Linked DNA regions of Homo sapiens. The protein of the gene in region 4 purifies or fractionates together with the protein of the main gene of each other region. This does not show direct contact. Each region holds a gene or a part of one and is shown on either strand. Other genes may lie near its edges.

Region 1 (4,834 bases), on a different chromosome or scaffold from region 4:
CCGTTTCTGCTGTGAATGGACTTTCCACTGATGTTGATAGCAATAAATTTTAAGAAAGAGACCTAAAACTTACCTCCAGACTAACCAAGGAGTTGCGCGAGAGATCCAAAGATTTCAGACCTGTTAAACTCATCAGAGAATGTCCCAGGTGGGTGATCTTCTCTTGGTAAGTTCCAGGAATAGACAATGACTGAAGCTCAGCTAAGAATAGAAAAATTGTAAGATTTTAATCTTTTATTTTGAAAACAATTATAATAACGGTCAAGTTCTTGGTGTTGGATATGGAGTAGAAACTGACACAGATTCTTGGTTTAATTCAACTTTACTCAGGCTCCTGAATCTTCTCCTCGGCCATCTGTGCCCTTCCTTGTAAAGTCCAGTTTAGTGCGGCCAAAACCCCCACCCTCAGTATCTGCTCAGGTTCCTCATCCCCAGATCCCATAGGTGGTGTCTGCTCACCCTGGCCTCTCTTTCGCAATAATCCTGTTCAGTTGGTTTAGCCCAAATCCCCTTACTCCTCATGTGTCCTCTCAGTCATTTTCCATCCACTGCCCCCACCCTGACCCTAGGCTATAAACTCCCCCCGGCCCCTGCTGTACTTGGAGTTGAGCTCCATCTCTCTCCCCCACTGCAAAATCCCAGCGCAGTGGCCCCAGGCCCACCTCAATGGTTCTGAATAAAGCCTTCCTCACTGTGCCTGACAAGGGTCATTCAAAACATTTCTTCCTCTAACAGTATATGTAAAAAGATTGAAAGACAAACTTTAACACATGTGTCCTATTGTGGAATAAATCCCTTTATTTTCCCTCTTACACATTTCTGTATTTTCAGCTTTTCTCAGAGAGATATGTATCCTCGTAATCTGAAAGAGGCACCTAGAACTCAGTGCAACTCCTTTGGAGTTGGAATATCAGCACTGACGAGCAAGGAACGTACCTGAAGTTTCGGCTTATGTTTATCTCTACAATACCTCCAAGCCCACACGCTTCTTCCCACCTTTACTGCCTCTCCCTCCAAAACCGTCTCTCCCCAGGAACACCCCTCTACTTCATCTCCCGCCTCCACTTCTGGCTGCTCAATTCTGTCACCCCTTGCAGCCATCACCATCTGAAACCCACTCGTCGGGTAACCTGTCTGCTGTCCTCCTGTTACAACTGTGGTCGGGCTGTGCAAGCTCCACGCACCCCATAAGCAGTCACTACATCAACATTAATTACAAGATGAAAGTTTCCGTAATCAAAAAGGCAGTTTAGATCCGAATACATCAATACTTTCCTGGGAACATTTATGTTTTAGAATATGTTTTGGTTTTTTTGTTTTTGTTTTCAGATGGAGTCTTACTCTGTTGCCCATGCTGGAGTACCGTGGTGCGATCTCGGCTCACTGCAACCTCCACCTCCTAGGTTCAAGTGATTCTCCCGCCTCAGTCTCCTGAGTAGCTGGGATTACAGGGACACGCCACCACATCCGGCTAAAACCCCACGTTTCCCTGTTTCCTCAGGTAGCCCTCAGGCATCGTCTCAGGTGCAGCTAAACAGCAGGATGCTGCCTGGTTTTGCCCCACTTGGAGGCACACAGACAAGCAGTTCATTGTCCCCCACACCCTGCCACCGGGACAGGGTCAGGAGGGGACAAGGTGCAGTGACCTTTGGCTCATGTTACTGAAAGAAAAGGGTTTCCGTGACAGTCTTGTGGTTTCCTGACCATGTTGGCCAGGCTGGTCTCGAACTCCTGACCTCAGGTGATCCATCCACCTCGGCCTCCCAAGACTACAGGCATGAGCCACCACACCCAACCAGAATATGTTCTGATTAAGTTTAAAATTTGGTTTGAGCTCTTCCAGTTCCAGGCAACATGGAGAGGACACATTTCAACCTGCTCCTCCCGCATATTAGACCCACTGCCCTGGAGGAAAATATACGGAACAAGCATTGGGGGACTGAAAGGAACAGAAGCCAACCAGCCAGGGGCCTCGGCACTCGAGAGAGAACCCAGCGCTGAGTCCCTGGCTTGACTCTGGGGTTTTGTTTATGCTTATTTACTACACATCCCACTCTGGGTGCCACAGAAGTCGGCAGCCCAGAAACACAAAAAGACCAAAAACCGTAAGCCTGCTCTCGATGGCCAAAGGACCAGGAGGGGCCTGGCAGGACAGACTCTCTGTACATCATCAGCCCTCCTGCAACCACACACACTGTTCACATCATCAGCCCTCCTGCAAGCAAACCCCCACCCACACACACAACAACACATACACACACGCACACACCCCTCGTCCACTTGGCACCAGGAGGGGCCTTGCAGGACAGACTCTCTTCACATCATCAGCCCTCCTGCAAGCAAACCCCCACTCGCGCGCACACACACACACACATACACACACACACACACACACCCCTCGTCCACCTGGCCTTGCGCAGCAGCCAGCACCGGGGTGTGAGAATGGATCCTGACTGCTGTCCCGGCCTGGCTAGAACGAGGTGGTGCCCTTCACTCTCCCAGCCAGTAGGGTCTGCCAGAGGCCGTGGGTGAGGCAGGAGCTCCATGACTGTCCCGGCAACAAGGTGGCACCCAGCAGGCTCGAGTGAGGAGTCTTCTCAAGTAAGGGGATTTAAACAGGAAGCAGAGTCTCATGACATCATACCCAGCATGTCCACAATATGATAAAAAATGACCAAGAACCAGAAAAATGGCAATTTGAATGAGAAAACACAGTCAATCAACAGATACCACCAAGAGAGAACACAGAACTTAGGTCTAACAAGGATTTTAAAGTGACTGTCATAAAAAATACTTCAATGAGCAATTACAAACACCTGAGACAAAGGAAAAACTAGTCTTAGCAAAGAAACAGGAGATATAAAGAAGAAACAAATAGAAATTTCAAAGAAAAATACAATAACAAAAAATCACAAGAGCAGTTTAATAGCAAAATGGAGATGACAGATGAAAACTGTAAAACCGTAGAGAAAAACTAAGAGAATCTGTCACAAGCAGACCTGCCCTAAGACAACTGCTGAAAAAATTTTTTCAAATATAAAGGAAAAACGAAAGAAACCTAGAGCATCGTGGAATGAAGAAAAAATAACAGAACAGATAAACATGCAGATAAATATGTTTCCTCCTGAGTTACTGAAAAGGCTAGGTATTTAAAAAAAATCATAATATTAATACGGTTCTCAAGGTATGCAGAGGAAATACTTAAGACAACTAAATTGTAAAGGGGAGAGGATAGAGACCTAAATGGTGATAAAGTTTCTATATTTCACTTAGAAGTAGTAAAATACCTGTACAAGTAAACTGTGTTGAATTACATAAATACATTGTAATTTGTATAGCCACCACTATGAAAACCATACAAGGAGATATACACCAAAACATAACAGATAAATCAAAATGAGATACTAAAAATATTCGAGTAAGTCACAGCAGGCAGGAAAAGGGAAACAGAAGAAAAAACACAGGAAACAATCAAAAAACAATAAAATGGCACACTTAAGTTCTAATATTTAACAATTAGATTAAATGTAAATGGCCTAAAACACTACTACAAGACAGAGATTAGCAGAGTGAATAAAAATAATGAACCAGGAAACTAATTTCAAATATAAAGATACAGGTAGGTTAAAAGTTCAAAGCAATGGATAGGAAAAGATACGCCATGCAAAAACCAATCAAAAGAAGCTACCGTAACAACAGTAATATCAAATAAGACAGATGTCTCAACAAAGAAAATTACCAGGAAAAAAGAGGAACAAGGCCCAGGCACCGTGGCTCACACTTGTAATCCCAGCACTTTGGGAGCCCAGCAGAGATCACCTGAGGTCAGGAGTTCGAGACTAGCCTGGCCAACATGGTGAAACCCCGTCTCTACTAAAAATACAAAAATTAGGCAGGCGTGATGGCAGGCGCCTGTAATCCCAGCTACTCGGGAAGCTGAAGCAGAGGAATCATGTGAACCCGGGAGGCAGAGGTTGCAGTGACCCAAGATCGTGCCACTGCACTCCAGCCTGGGGGACAAGAAGGAAACTCTGTCTCAAAAAAAAAAAAAAAAAAGAGGAAGACTACATATACTAAAAGGGTCAGTCCACTAAGAAGGTATAAAAATCCTAGCTATGTAATTCAACAAACAGAGCTTCAAAACATACAAAGTGAAAAAAAAAACAGACAAATCCACAATTACAGTTAAGGGTTCCAGACCCCTCTCTCAGTCATTAATAGAGTCACTAGACAGAAAATCAGCAAGGATACAGAAGAACTGAACAATATCACCAACCAACAGGATCTAATTGATATTTATGTATTTACATAACACTCCACTCAACAACAGAATACACACACACTCAAGTGCACCTGGAACATTCAACAACATAGACCAGATGCTGGATCATAAAACAAACCCTGACAAATTTAAAAGAATTAAAATCATACAGATTATGTTCTGGCCATAATGGAATCACACAGAAAAATAACAGGAAAATATCCACACATGGAACGTTAAAAACATACTCCTTAAAAATCCACAGGTCAGGCCGGGCGCGGTGGATCATGCCTGTAATCCCAGCACTTTGGGAGGCCGAGGTGGGCGGATCATGAGGTCAGGAGTTCCAGCTACTCGGGAGGCTGAGGCAGGAGAATGGCATGAACCCAGGAGGCAGAGCTTTCAATGAGCCAAGATTGCGTCACTGCACTCCAGCCTGGGTGACAGAGCGAGACTCCACCTCAAAAAAAAAAAAAAAAAAAAAATTCACAGGTCAAACAGGAAGTATCGAGGGAAATTCTTAAAATACGCTGAACTGGATGAAAATTAAAATACAACATAACAAAATTTGTG
Region 2 (4,834 bases), on a different chromosome or scaffold from region 4:
TAGGTGAAACTGAGGCTCAGAGAGGTCAAGTAGTGTACCCAAGGTTGCACAGCAAGTATACTTGGTGGTCTTGACTGCCATGCTATGCTCCTGCTACTATCGCTTGGCAGGCACAGCTCGCTTGTATTGAGCACCCACTGATTGCCGGAGCCAGTGCTTAATGAGTAATTACAGTACCTAACATTGGAGTGCTTGCCGCGTGCCAGGCCCATCACTTGCTACCTAATGTGTAGGCTCTTAGTTGGTCTTTAACAGCCTGTGAGGTGGGTAGTGGACTCATCAACAGTGAGAGCACCCCACGCTCAGAGAGGTTAGGAGACTTGGCCAGGTTCACACAGCCGGTGACCTCCAGGAACAGGAGTTAAACCTTGCTGTCCGGCTCAGAGCTCAGGCTCTTTCCACAATGACCTTCAGCGCCTGTTGGGGGAGTTACTGCGTGTGTGGAAATCCCATCTTCCCTCCTCTGCTCCGTCCACTTCAGTGGTCCTTGTAGGATGTACTTCTGGTCTACCAGACACTGTCGGTGCTGGGTCCTCCCTGAATTGGGGTGTGGGCCTGAGGTCGGTCCTGCCCCCCAGCTGGCCTCCACCCTTAGGAGTGAACTACCCCAGGGAACCAGAACTCGGCTTTAGTGTCTGGGTCCACTCAGAAGCCAGAACCCAAAGACCAAAGTGGAAGCCTCTGTGTCCAGAAGCCTTTTGGTTTGTGTTGTGATTTATTGGGTAAAGGAGGGAAAACCTGTAGTGACTCACGGGCTTGTTCTAGAAGCTGAGTGAGTAACTTTGGGAAGACCGAATCCCCTTAGCTCAGCTTCCTTGGTATGAAAGGGAAAGTAATGCTTCCCTAGCAGAATTGTGGGGATTGGAAATAACTTTTGTGAGCTGCCCCAAGGAGGCATCAATGATGAGTGACATCCCATTCACTGCTCTATATTTCGTTCTATAAAAATATCTGCAGGCTGGGTACTGTGGTTCATGTCTGTAATCCCAGCACTTTGGGAGGCTGAGGTGAGAGGATCACGTGAGCCCAGGAATTTGAGACCAGCCTGGGTAACACAGTGAAACACAGTCTCTATAAAAAATATTTTAAAAAATTAGCTGAAGCCGGGTGCAGTGGCTCACACCTGTCATCCCAGCACTTTTGGAGGCCAAGGTGGTCAGATCACCTGAGGTCAGGAGTTCGAGACCAGCCTGGCCAATATGGGTGTGGTGGCACACGCCTGTAGTCCCAGCTACTCAGGAGGCTGAGGCAGGAGAATTGCTTGAACCCGGAAGGCGGAGGTTGCAGTGAGCCGAGGTTGCACCACTGCACTACAGCCTGGGCGACAGAGCAAGTCTCTGTCTCAAAAAAAAGTAAAAAATAAAAAATTAGCCGAGAATGGTGGTACATGTCTGTAGTCCCAACTACTCGGGAGGCTGAGGCGGGAGGATCACTTGAACCCAGGAGTTCAAGCCTGCAGTGAGCTGTGATTGTGCTACTGTACTCCAGCGTAGGCAACAGAGTGAAACCCTGTCTCTTTAAAGAAAAGAAGAATCTATGAAAATATAGATGTATAGTCATAGAAAACTTTGAGGAAATGCATGAAATATTAATGATTGGTCCTGGGCTGTGGGATCATACTTGACACTTAAATATTTCCCGTAATGAATGAGTCCTCTTGTATTAAGAGCATAGTAATTGCAATTCCTAACCTCCCTCCCTGGACAGGACCCTGATGCTTGGTGTGACCTGAGTAAATTTGACCTCCCTGAGGAACCATCTGCAGAGGACAGTATCAACAACAGCCTAGTGCAGCTGCAAGCGTCACATCAGCAGCAAGTCCTGCCACCCCGCCAGCCTTCCGCCCTGGTGCCCAGTGTGACCGAGTACCGCCTGGATGGCCACACCATCTCAGACCTGAGCCGGAGCAGCCGGGGCGAGCTGATCCCCATCTCCCCCAGCACTGAAGTCGGGGGCTCTGGCATTGGCACACCGCCCTCTGTGCTCAAGCGGCAGAGGAAGAGGCGTGTGGCTCTGTCCCCTGTCACTGAGAATAGCACCAGTCTGTCCTTCCTGGATTCCTGTAACAGCCTCACGCCCAAGAGCACACCTGTTAAGACCCTGCCCTTCTCGCCCTCCCAGGTGCGTGGACCCCACTCTGGCTGCTTATTGGGTCGGTACAGACACCTAGTGTTCAGTGCTGGGGCAAGGGTGAGCAAAACGAGACCTGGCTCTGCCCTCATGCAGCTTATGCTCTGGTAGGAAGACCAGGTAACTAAAAAAGACTCAGAAAATGTGATAATCAGGATGAAAGAGAAGGCTTATGGTGCTGCATATGTGTATCTAGTCTGGGCAAGTCCAGGAAGACTGCCAGGAGGAGAAGGAGGATGCTGGTAACTGGGTAATGAAGGAGAGGAAGAGAACTGTCGTGTTTGTTCAGTCCACGTATGGAACCTATTTCACAGCAGACTTACCAGCACTGGGGAGCAAAGATGAAGATGATGGGTTGTCTCCAGCACTGGCTGGCCCTGCCTGGTCCTGGGAAGACCTGGGATAGCCAGTGCTGGGGATGGGCTTGTAATGAATTAACCAGAATAGAGTGTGGGAAGTGCCATGTGATAGCAATTGCGAAGTCACTGAGAACTCACTGTTCTGGGTGTTGCCCCTGGGTGCTCTGTTAGTAACACACAGAGCCTCGGGAGCCGGGATGGGTGCCAGGGTCTCTCTGAGATAGAGGTCATGGGGGGCACCTGGCCTTCCTGCAGAGAGGTGTCTGGGCTGGGTCTCCTTGAGCACCTTGACCAAAGGCACAGAAAAGGAAGGACAGAGTGGATGTGTGGAGTGGTGGGGGGTGGCGCAGGGCCTTGGTGGGCCTAGGTATAACTTAGGGCTTTGGCTCTCATTAGGTTTGTTCTTCCTGTGAGGCTGTGGGAGAGAGCGAGGCCCTGAGGTGGCCTGGTGCAGGAGGCCACCCTGTCATCACGGGTCAGGATGGCTAGTGGCATTTTGAGAGAGACCCTGTGTCGGTTTGCTCCGGCTGCTTAACAGAGTACCACAGGCTCGGTGGATTTGACAAGAAATTCAGCAGTGTTGGTTTCTACTGAGGCCTCTCTCCTTGGCTTGTAGATGCTGGCGGCTCCTGTGTCTTCACGTGGTCACCTGTGTCCTAATCTATTATTTTTTCTTGTAAAACCTCTTATTTTATAATGTTATAAGGACACCCGTTATTGGATTAGGGCCCACTCTAATGACTTTATTTTTTGAGAGTCGCTCTGTTGCCCAGGCTGGAGGCTGGAGGCTGGAGTGCAGTGGCATGATCACAGCTCACTGCAATCTCCACCTTCCAGGTTCAAGGAATTTTCCTGCCTCAGGCTCCTGAGCAGCTGAGATTATAGGCATGAGCCACCATGCCCGGCTATTTTTTTTGTATTTTTAGTAGAGACAGGGTTTCTCCAGGTTGGCCAGACTGGTCTCGAACTCTTGACCTCAAGTGATCCACCTGCCTCGGCCTCCCAAAGTGCTGGGATTACAGGCGTGAGCCACCGCGCCTGGCCTAACTAACCACTTTAAAGGCCCTATCTCCAAGTATTAATACAGTCCCATTCTGAGGTGCTGAGAGTTGGGACTTCAGGATGTAAATTTGGGGGAGACACAGGTCAGCCTGTAACATGCCGCAAGTGAGGGCTGCTGGCTGGAGAAGGAAGGCAGCGGGTCCCTCAGCTACTATTTGGGAAGCTCAGGATGATGGAGCGTGGTCGCTCTACTCCAGAGACCCCATTTAGGGTGGTGACCCTGAGGGTTGCAGATGGCTCTCTATTATAGCACCTTCAGGGCAGGGAGGGAAGAGAGCGGGGTGCTTCAAAGGATGGATGTTGGCTTAGATCTAGATTTCATTCTCACTTCTAGCACTCAGTGCAAGACTCAAAACCTCTCTAAGCGTTGGTTTTCTTATCTGTAAAAGGGGGATAGTAATAGTGCCTATGTCTCAGGATTTGTGGTAACTAATTGAAATTATTTGTGTGAAGTGCTTAGCACTGGCAAGAGAAGGTGCCCTCTAAATGATAACCCCACCGCCACCAGCACACTACAACTGTCACATGCCTTTTGCCTTCACAGGTCAGTTCAGAGCTAGTTTTATTTCTTCTGAGAAGGAGCCACTCTCCCACAGTTGGCTTCCTGTGCCTTAACTGCGTCGTCAGCACTCGAGTAGAGATGGCAAAAGCTAGGATTAGGGTGACGGAAGCCCAGAGGTCTGTGTGAACCTGCTTGGTGGGCTCCTGGCATCGATCTGTCCCAGTCCTTGTTCTCGGGTGTCTGATGGGTCAAGAGGGGACCTCAGTATCAGAGCAGACGTTTTGGGGGAGAGGCTCAAGGATCTCTCCCCATGATCCCCTGAGGTCTCAGGGATACTCATGCAGGTCATCATTTTGTCTTGTTCCCTCTCTCTTCTTTGGCAGTTTCTGAACTTCTGGAACAAACAGGACACATTGGAGCTGGAGAGCCCCTCGCTGACATCCACCCCAGTGTGCAGCCAGAAGGTGGTGGTCACCACACCACTGCACCGGGACAAGACACCCCTGCACCAGAAACATGCTGCGTGAGTGCTGCAGTGCCCCCAACCTTCGCCGTCCTCTCCCTCAGCAACACCAGACCATGGGCCTTGGGACCACTGGTGGAACAGTGGGGAGGGGGCACCCTTGGAATAACACTGAAGACTGTTTTAAGAAAGCCCTCTCCTTTCTGGCCACCACGATTTATCATTTTTATCGATATAGTTTTGGGCTCCACCTTTGCTTTTCCTCATTTGTATTTTTTAATTTGATAGTTTCCTTTTTTGTGATCCTCCTGCCTCAGC
Region 3 (4,834 bases), on a different chromosome or scaffold from region 4:
ATGGACAATTCATAGAAAAGGAAATATACACGGCTCTTAAAAATATGAAAAGATGTGGCCGGGTGCGGTGGCTCATGCCTGTAATCCCAGCACTTTGAGAGGCCGAGGTGGGCGGATAATCTGAGGTCGGGAGTTTGAGACCAGCCTGGCCACCATGGTGAAACCTTGTCTCTACTAAAAAGATATATATATATAAATTAGCCGGGCATGGTGGCACGCACCTGTAATCCCAGCTACTCAGGAGGCTGAGGCAGGAGAATCACTTGAACTGGGAGGCGGAGGTTGCAGTGAGCCGAGATTGCGCTACTGCACTCCAGCCTGGGCGACAGAGCAAGATTCCCTCTCAAAAAAAAAAAAAAAGAAAAGAAAAGAAAAGATGTTCAGCCTCACTCACAGATGTTAAGTTAGAAATAAAATCAGAGGTGGAGGGCGAGGTGCTGTCCAAGCAGCCCTGGACAGGAGTGGGGCCCGTGCAGAGGGACTGTTCCGAGTAGCCCCGGGCAGGAGTGGGGCCTGTCAGCCTAAAGGCAGAGGGGCTCTTCCTAATAGCCCTGGGCAGGAGTGGGGCCTGTGCAGAGGGGCTGTCCCGAGGAGCCGTGGGCAGGAGTGGGGCCCGTGCAGAGGGGCTGTCCCAGAGCATAGCACAGCATTGGTGGTGTTCTTCCCATGGGGTTTGGGTTATCCACTGTGACACCACCTTACACACCTTACACACACACAGGAGCTAAACCAGGGACAGCAGACGATGGGGCCGCATCCTCACTGCAGGAGGGGAGGTTACAATCAGCAAGCGTCGGGGGGGCGAGAGGTGCCACTAGCGGCAGAGACATCAGTAGGACGCACAACACCAATGGTTACTAGGTAGGTTACTATCTATAGACAGTGTGTATATTACACACCAACTGGCGTACACTACATACTTCCTTGCTCTGTTGGCTGAGAAGACCAGAAACAGCCCAGTAGGGACAAGCACACCCAGCTCCCAGACCTTGGTCTCTGAGACCACTCTCCAAGAAAAAGAACCGGGGCTTCTTGAAGAAATGGCTGATTCTAGGACTGGAGGAGGAAATAGACAAGATGAGGCTGGAGCAGTTTATAGGGCCAGAAATAAGGACGTGCTCAGAAGACAAAGTGATGGGCAATGACACAGGGACCCAGGAGCCACCTGAAAGTTCCCAGTGGCCAAAGCTGTGACAATGAGAGCAACAAAATAAGCAAACTAGCATTGAATTATAACTTGAAGTGTAAAATAAATATCCACGAGTCCATTATAATAAATGATTGAAAAAATTAATAAGTGGGGCCAGGTGCAGTGGCTCATGCCTGTAATCCCAGCACTTTGGGAAGCCAAGGCAGGAGGATCACTTGAGGTCAGGAGTTCGAGACCAGCCTGGCCAACATGGTGAAACCCCATCTCTACTGAAATACAAAAATTAGTCAGGTGTGGTGGCACACGCCTGTAGTTCTAGCTACTCAGGAGGCTGAGATAGGAAAATCGCTTGAACCCGGGAGGCGGAGATTGCAGTGAGCCAAGATTATGCCACTGCACTGCAGCCTGGGCGACAGCGTGAGACACTGTCTCAAAAAAAAAAAAAAATTATAAATGAGGGTGAACAGACAAATCTCCTGTGTAGAAGAATTCCAAATAACTTCTATAGATGCTCTTCTCTAAAGGAGGGGGAGCAAAACTCCCCACCCCTTCCATGTGGGCTGAACAAAGCGACTTCCTTCCAGAGAGCACAGGGGATGGGCGACCTCACAGTGGAGAAGCCTGACCCTCCACCTTGGCCAGGGGACCAAGGCCAGCAGCATCACCAGTGAGAGGTCACATGGACAGTGTGGACCCCAGACAGGATGGGGTGAGAAGAGTACTTTACCTCTGTGGCCTTCCTCCTAGAACCCATCCACCACCCAGTCTGATCACGAGAAAAATATCAGGCAAGGGCCAACAGGGGGCCATTCTGTAAAATCCCTGACCAGCTCTCCCCAAAACTCGAAGGTCATCAAAAACAAGGAGAGTCTGAGAAACTCACAGCCCAAACAAGCCTGAGACCCACAGCCCAAAAATCATGTGGGATCCTGGGACAGAAAAGAAAAACTGCAAAAATACAAATCAAGTGTGGACTTTAGTCAGTGATTTACCAATAATGACTTGTTAATTGTACACGTCCCATCATAATGTAAGATATTCAAATAGCAGAGACTGGGTGCGGTACAGGGGAACACCCTGCACTTTCCAATTTTTCTATAAATTTAAAACTATACTAACATAAAAGGTTTATTTTTAAAAATCGTACAGTCACGCCGGAGGCTCACGCCTGTAAGCCCAGCACTTTGGGAGGCCAAGGCGGGCGGATTCACTTGAGGTCAGTAGTTTGAGACCAGCCTGGCCAACATGGTGAAATCCTGTCTCTACTAAAAATACAAAACTTAGCCCGGCATGGTGGCAGGCGCCTGTAATCCCAGCTACTCGGGAGGCTGAGGCAGGAGAATCACTTGAACCCAGGAGACAGAGATTGCGGTGAGGTGAAATCACACCATTGCACTCCAGCCTAGGTGACAGGAGTGAAACTTCATCTCAAAAAAGAAAAAGAAAAAAATAAAATAAAAAGTAAAAAGTAAACTAAAAGGTAGTACAGTCAGATATCTTTTGTTACATATGGATCCTGTAAAGGCCAAAACTGTGCTGCACGTGTGCCAACCAGAGCACGAGGGAGCAGGCCCCGTGGCACCCTGTGATGCGAGTGTGACTTAGGGCAATGATCTTTACGGACAGCAACTTGGCAATGCCTATCAAAAAAAAAAATTTTTTTTGAGACGGAATCTCGCTCTGTCGCCCAGGGTGGAGTGCAGTGGCGCGATCTCGGCTCACTGCAAGTTCCGCCTCCTGGGTTCACGCCATTCTCCTGCCTCAGCCTCCCGAGTAGCCGCGACTACAGGTGCCTGCCACCACGCCCGGCTAATTTTTTTTTTTGTATTTTTAGTAGAGATGGGGTTTCACCGTGTTAGCCAGGATGGTCTCAATCTCCTGGCCTCGTGATCTGCTTGCCTCAACCTCCCAAAGTGCTGGGATTACAGGCATGAGCCACCGCGCCTGGCCAAAAATTTACAATTTAGTTTTAATTTTAATTTTAAAAGATAGAGTCTCACTCTGTTGCCCAGGCTGGAGAGCAGTGGCATGATCATAGCTCACTGCAGCCTCAAACTTTCTGGGTTCAAGCCATCCTCCTGCCCCAGCCTCCCATGTAGCTGGGACTACAGGCATGCACCACCACACTCGGCTAATTTTTTAATTTTTTTGTAGAGACAGGGGTCTCACTATGTTGCCCAGGCTGGTCTCAAACTCCTGGCCTCAAGTGATCCTCCCACCGCAGCCACGCAAAGTGCTGGGATTACAGATATTGGCCACCACTCCCGGCCCCCTTTCAAATTTTTTTATTTATTTAATTTTTTTTGAAATGGAGTCTCGCTGTCACCCAGGCTAGAGTGTGGTGGTGCGATCTTGGCTCACTGCAACCTCCAGCTTCCGGGTTAAATCAGTTCTCCTGCCTTAGCTTCCTGTGTAGCTGGCATTACAGGTGCCTGCCACCACGTCCAGCTATTTTTTCTATTTTTAGTAGAGACGAGGTTTCACCGTGTTGGCCAGGCTGGTCTCGAACTCCTGACCTCAAGCAATCTGCCCACCTCGGCGTCCCAAAGTGCTGGGATTACAGGCACGGGCCACCGCACCTGGCCCCCCTTTCAAAATTTTAAATGGACTTATGCTCTGACCCAGTAGTTATCCTTTAGGATTTATTCTACAGGCGTATTTACATGTATGCAAAATGGCAAAGACACAGGGTATTTGCTGTGCCACTCTTGGTACTATGATAAGGAAAATCCAGAGGAGCACTGGGTGAAGTTCTGGTGCATCATCTGATGAACTATTGTCAGCTGCTACAAAACAATGTAAGGAAAGCGGGAGCAGGGTCAGGTGCAGCGGCCCACACCCGTAATCCCAGCACTTTGGGAGGCCGAGGTGGGAGGATCGCTTCAGCCCAGGAGTTAAGGACCAGCAACCTAGTGAGACCCCTGTCCCTACAAAAAAATTAAAAATTAGTAGGCTGGGTGTGGTGGCTCACACCTGTAATCCCAGCACTTCGGGAGGCTGAGGCAGGAGGATCACCTGAGGTCAAGAGTTCAAGACCAGCCTGACCAACATGGCGAAACCCCGTCGCTACTAAAAATACAAAATTAGCCGGGCATGGTGGTGCATGCCTGTAATCCCAGCTTCTTGGGAGGCAGAGGCAGGAGAATCCCTTGAACCCGGGAGGCAGAGGCTGCAGTGAGCCGAGATCTCACAAATGCACTCCAGCCTGGGCAAAAAGAGCAAAAGTCTGTCTCAAAAGAAAAAAAAAATTAAAAATTAGCTGGGCAGGGTGGTGAGCACCTGTAATCCATGCTACTCAGGATGCTGAGGTAAGAGGATCACTTGTGTCCGGGAGGTGGAGGCTGCAGTAAGCTGTGGTTTCTCCACTGCACTCCAGCCTGGGCAACAGAGCAAGACCCCGTCTTAAAAAGAAAAAGAAAAGAGAATGCAGGAGCCCCACGCAGCTGACGGATACGGCACTTGTTCCAACACATCTCCAGCATCACTGATGCCTGTGTGCCCAGAGTAAGTGTGGGTGCAGGAGAAACAGAACAGTGGCCGCCTAGGAGAGGCCCGCAAGGTCGGGCAGGACAGGCTCACTGCTCAATGAGCCCCCTTTTCCCAAATGGTGGGTGTGAATGGCCTATTCAAAACACATGGTAGGAATTTTGAAATCATCCCCCAAAATGGCACCAGTCATTGCAT
Region 4 (4,344 bases):
GAGGTCAGGAGTTTGAGACCAGCCTGGCCAACATGGTGAAACCCTGTCTCTGCTAAAATACAAAAATTAGCCAGGTGTGTTGGCAGGCGCCTATAATCCCAGCTACTCAGGAGGCCGAGGCAGGAGAATCACTTGACCCCCCCTAAAAAAAAATCCTAATCCTAACCCAGAAATAAAATGGCTCTACTCATGAATGGGAAAGTTTGTCATCTTTGAGATTTTATATATATAGACACACACACACACACATGTTGTGTGTATATATATATGCACTGTCAGTCAAATATTCACATTCTAAATGACTGTCAGAAATATTCCATGGAAACTTCATCTCTGAAGATTATACAGATTTAAACTGAACATCATCTACCTACAGCAAATCACACTTCCCATCTTTGAACTAAAAGGAACCAGAACTTACCCCACCTCCTAACAAGCAATATTTGGTCCTATTGCTTCTAAACTATTGCAACCAAAATTCCAGTAACCAAAACATTTGCTGTGTTCTCTAGGCATATCAAGTGTTTTATTTAGACCATTTCTGAGGATTTTGCTTTAAAGGCTTTACATGCAGCATTCAAGTATCTCATAATATAAGACAGTCTAGTCTTTCAGAGATCATGTATCATCAAGGTCTGCAGAGTTTTCACTGTCATTTGCAACAAGAGCCTCTCTGTTCTCGTAAGTCCAGAAGCCATTCAAATCGATTAGAATGGTGGTTACTGTGTCTCCTTGATTACTGTTGATTAAATCCTGAAGAGAGATTTTCAAAGGATCCTTTGGTTTTACCATGTCAAAGATTTCATCCTGCAAGAGAAAAAAAAATACAATGAAATTTGATCCACTTAATTTCTATCACACATAGTGATCCAAAATTCAGGGCTGTTTGCATCCACTGAAGTACAGAGGAATAAAATTGAGGGCTGCCACTTGGGCTTATGTTAATTTTTTGTTCTACTTTTTTTCTTTTCCATTTAACAGGCAGTTTCCTTTTCTCTACCTACAACCACAAAATTTTATTGGATAACTCCTTAGCTATGTGATAGCTATCCTTCGTTTTATAGATGAAGAAACCAAGGCTCAGTGCCTAATCTAGCTACATAGGTAATTAGTGGCAGAACTATCTAATGCAGTGTTCAGGGACTGCACGTTAACTAGTTTCTTATATATTTTTCTGTTGCCTTCTAATTGGTGAAACAAAGTTTTGTCTGTAGTTTTTGTTTTTGTTGTTTTGTTTTGTTTTTGAGATGGAGTCTCACTCTGTCATCCAGGCTGGAGTGCAGTAGTGCGATCTTGGCTTACTGCAACCTCCGCCTCCTGGGTTCAAGCGATTCTTCTGCCTCAGCCTCCCGAGTAGGTGGGACTACAGGTGCACGCCACCACACCCAGCTAATTTTTGTATTTTTAGTAGAGATGGGGGTTTCACCATATTGGCCAGGCTGGTCTCAAACTCCTGATGTTAAGTAATCTGCCTGCTTTGGCCTCCCAAATTGCTGGAATTATAGGTGTGAGCCACTGCGCCCAGCCTTTTTTTTTTTTTTTTGAGACAGAGTTTCACCCTTGTTGCCCAGGCTGGAGTGCAATGGTGTGATCTCGGCTCACCGCAACCTCTGCCTCCTGGGTTCAAGCGATTCTCCTGCCTCAGCCTTCCAAGTAGCTGGGATTACAGGCGTGTGCCACCACATCTGGCCAATTTTTGTATTTTCAGTAGAGACGGGGTTTCTCCATATTGGTCAGGCTGGTCTTGAACTCCCGACCTCAGGTGATCCGCCTGCCTTGGCCTCCCAAAGTGCTGGGATTACAGGCGTGAGCCACCGTGCCCAGCCCCTTCTTTTTTTGTGTGTGTGAGATGGAGTGTCCCTCTGTCCCAGGCTGGAGTGCAGTAGTGCGATCTTGGCTCGCTGCAAACTTTGCCTCCCAGGTTCAAGCCATTCTCCTGTCTTGACCTCCCAAATAGCTGGGATTACAGCCGTGTACCACCACACCCGGCTAACAAGGGTTTGGTTTAATTTTTTTTTGCTAACCGTTCAACTCAATTAAACATCTAAATGTTTCAGAGATAGTGACAAAGCTTCATTTCCAATGTTGATGTCAACATTTTGTTAGGATGGGAGAGGGGAGTTTTCTCTGGATATGCATTAGACATCCAAAAAGAAGCTAAATTCTGCTAAAACTTACTGGAACATATAGAAGACCTCCTTCTATATTATGAAGTGTACAACAGATATTTACAGGGAATTAGTACATGTTTTCTAATCTTTTTGTAGTAAAATAACTACAAAATTTGTAGTAAAATAAAATTTGTAGCAAAATTACTAAAAGTGAACAGGCTGTTTGAGGTAGCATACTAAAACAGTTTCCAAGGTAAAAAATCAGTTTACAGTTGAACAGACTGCCGTAGGATATAGACTGTACTGACTGTCTTAATTTTCTTTTTTTTCTTTTGAGATGGAGTTTCACTCTTGTTGTCCAGGCTGGAGTGCAGTGGCACAATCTCAGCTCACTGCAACCTCCACCTCCTGGGCTCCAACGATTCTCCTGCCTCAGCCTCCCGAGTAGCCGGGATTACATGCATGCGCCACCATGCCCAGCTAATTTTTGTATTTTTAGTAGAGACGGGGTTTCACCATGTTGACCAGGCTGGTCTTGAACTCCTGACCTCGGATGATCCGCCCGCCTCAGCCTCCCAACGTGCTGGGATTACAAGCATGAGCCACTGAGCCCGGCCCCCTGACTGTCTTAATTAAAATGAATGAATGCTTCCAATGAAAACATAATGATGACAATACTAAAATTATAAACTACATAAATAGTCCAAATGTGGTCTCAGTTCGTAATGATTTAAATATCAGTTCAGAACAAAAAGCAAACACTTGATTCAAATAGTACTTCATTAGTTGCTTTCATATAAAATTTCATGTAATACAAATGACTATCTCATAATTATCTGGTAATACGTAAATTAAAGGAAAAGATAACCTTGACATCTTGAAATGAAACAGGATCTTGTCCATGGATTTTCATTAGTTCCTGTATGGCCTGTATTTAATAGAAATAAATCTGTAAATAAAAAATGAAATACACAACATCCCTCTTTTGCCCTACAACCCCTTTCTACTTATACTTCCTTTCCTATCAGGCCACAAACCTCATCATTCTCTCTCTTGCCAATCTTCTTAGCTTTCTTGACCTTATTCCACATCAGTGAGCAAAACCTAAATTCTCGATTAGTGTATTGACCTTTTTAGACCTATATCTTAACTATTGAGAACTTCAGGAAAAAAAATAAAAAGATTACGGATTGCTGCTTCTACATAGGAATGTTCTCCAACCTCAAACAGGCCCTCAGCATGGCCTCACAATTATTCTGTTTGATCTGCTCCTCTCATTTTCCATGAATGTTATTCCTGCCTTCACTATTCTCTTAAGATCCCCAATCTACTGTCTCCCTTCCTACCCTACACTTTGCTTTCTACGTAATACAAGAAATGGAGGTAGACCTCCCAAAACTCTTCCTTTTCATAAACTTTAACAAAAAAATGAAGAAACTGCTGTCATCCAGTAGGAATACAAAATACTTCAGGTGAGCATTATTCACTGGAAATGTGAAGTTTCAAATTCTTGGTGAACAGTCAACTTTGTTCCCGATGCCTACTCTGTTACCACTAATAATCAGAGTATCCATAAAGGAATCCCTTTGAAGTAGATAAGAATCTGAGTACATGCTCTGTTAATATAGTAATAGATGGTATGATCTAGAGTGAATCATCCAGACCCAGCTTTATCATTAGGATAGTGATGTCCAAACGCTCTGTGAACAGCCCAGGATTATAGGGCTCAGCATTGGACACTTTTTACCTTATCCCATATAACCAAGCCTAAATAAGCTTTGACAAAATGCCTATATGAAATATTTTTAAAGTAGTTTTAAAACAATTTAATATTCTAAGAGTAGAAAATACTGTAAAGAAATCTTTATGAAAAAGAGCAGTGTTTAATTTCAAATACATTTATTTTCTTAAGACTGGATTTTTACCTAATAGGTTTGTCTAAAGTAGGGGCATTCCTATGATGGGTTGGTATTTATTTTCTCAGATGAGCCGCTGATATAAGCCCATATAGCATTCAGTTTTTTTAATTTTTATTTTTAGAGATAGGGTCTTACTCTGTCATTCAGGCCGTAGTGCAGTGGCAAATCATGGATCACTGCAGCCTTGACCTCCCGGACTCTAGTGATCTTCCCACCTTAGCCTCTCAAGTAGCTGGGACTGCAGGCATGTGCCACCACACCCAGCTAATTTTTAATTTTTTTGTAGAGATGGAGTCTCCCTATGTTGCCCAGGC

The links.
Region 1: the proteins of PPP2R3C (region 4) and CEP72 purify together in Homo sapiens (affinity purification with mass spectrometry; one large-scale study listed by BioGRID and IntAct). This does not show direct contact.
Region 2: the proteins of PPP2R3C (region 4) and MYBL2 purify together in Homo sapiens (affinity purification with mass spectrometry; one large-scale study listed by BioGRID and IntAct). This does not show direct contact.
Region 3: the proteins of PPP2R3C (region 4) and CEP131 purify together in Homo sapiens (affinity purification with mass spectrometry; one large-scale study listed by BioGRID and IntAct). This does not show direct contact.

What each region holds. Positions count from the first base shown.
Region 1 is NC_000005.10:614,357-619,190, reverse strand, and holds part of CEP72 (centrosomal protein of 72 kDa), read right to left. Parts: intron 4,639-4,834; exon of another isoform or gene 4,510-4,638; intron 1,363-4,509; exon of another isoform or gene 1,342-1,362; intron 202-1,341; coding exon 74-201; intron 1-73. UniProt on the Homo sapiens protein: Involved in the recruitment of key centrosomal proteins to the centrosome.
Region 2 is NC_000020.11:43,700,783-43,705,616, forward strand, and holds part of MYBL2 (myb-related protein B), read left to right. Parts: intron 1-1,707; coding exon 1,708-2,121; intron 2,122-4,436; coding exon 4,437-4,576; intron 4,577-4,834. UniProt on the Homo sapiens protein: Transcription factor involved in the regulation of cell survival, proliferation, and differentiation. Transactivates the expression of the CLU gene.
Region 3 is NC_000017.11:81,211,977-81,216,810, forward strand, and holds part of CEP131 (centrosomal protein of 131 kDa), read right to left. Parts: intron 1-4,834. UniProt on the Homo sapiens protein: Component of centriolar satellites contributing to the building of a complex and dynamic network required to regulate cilia/flagellum formation.
Region 4 is NC_000014.9:35,084,972-35,089,315, forward strand, and holds the end of PPP2R3C (serine/threonine-protein phosphatase 2A regulatory subunit B'' subunit gamma), read right to left. Parts: intron 3,040-4,344; coding exon 2,980-3,039; intron 808-2,979; coding exon 619-807; 3' UTR 501-618; downstream 1-500. UniProt on the Homo sapiens protein: May regulate MCM3AP phosphorylation through phosphatase recruitment. May act as a negative regulator of ABCB1 expression and function through the dephosphorylation of ABCB1 by TFPI2/PPP2R3C complex.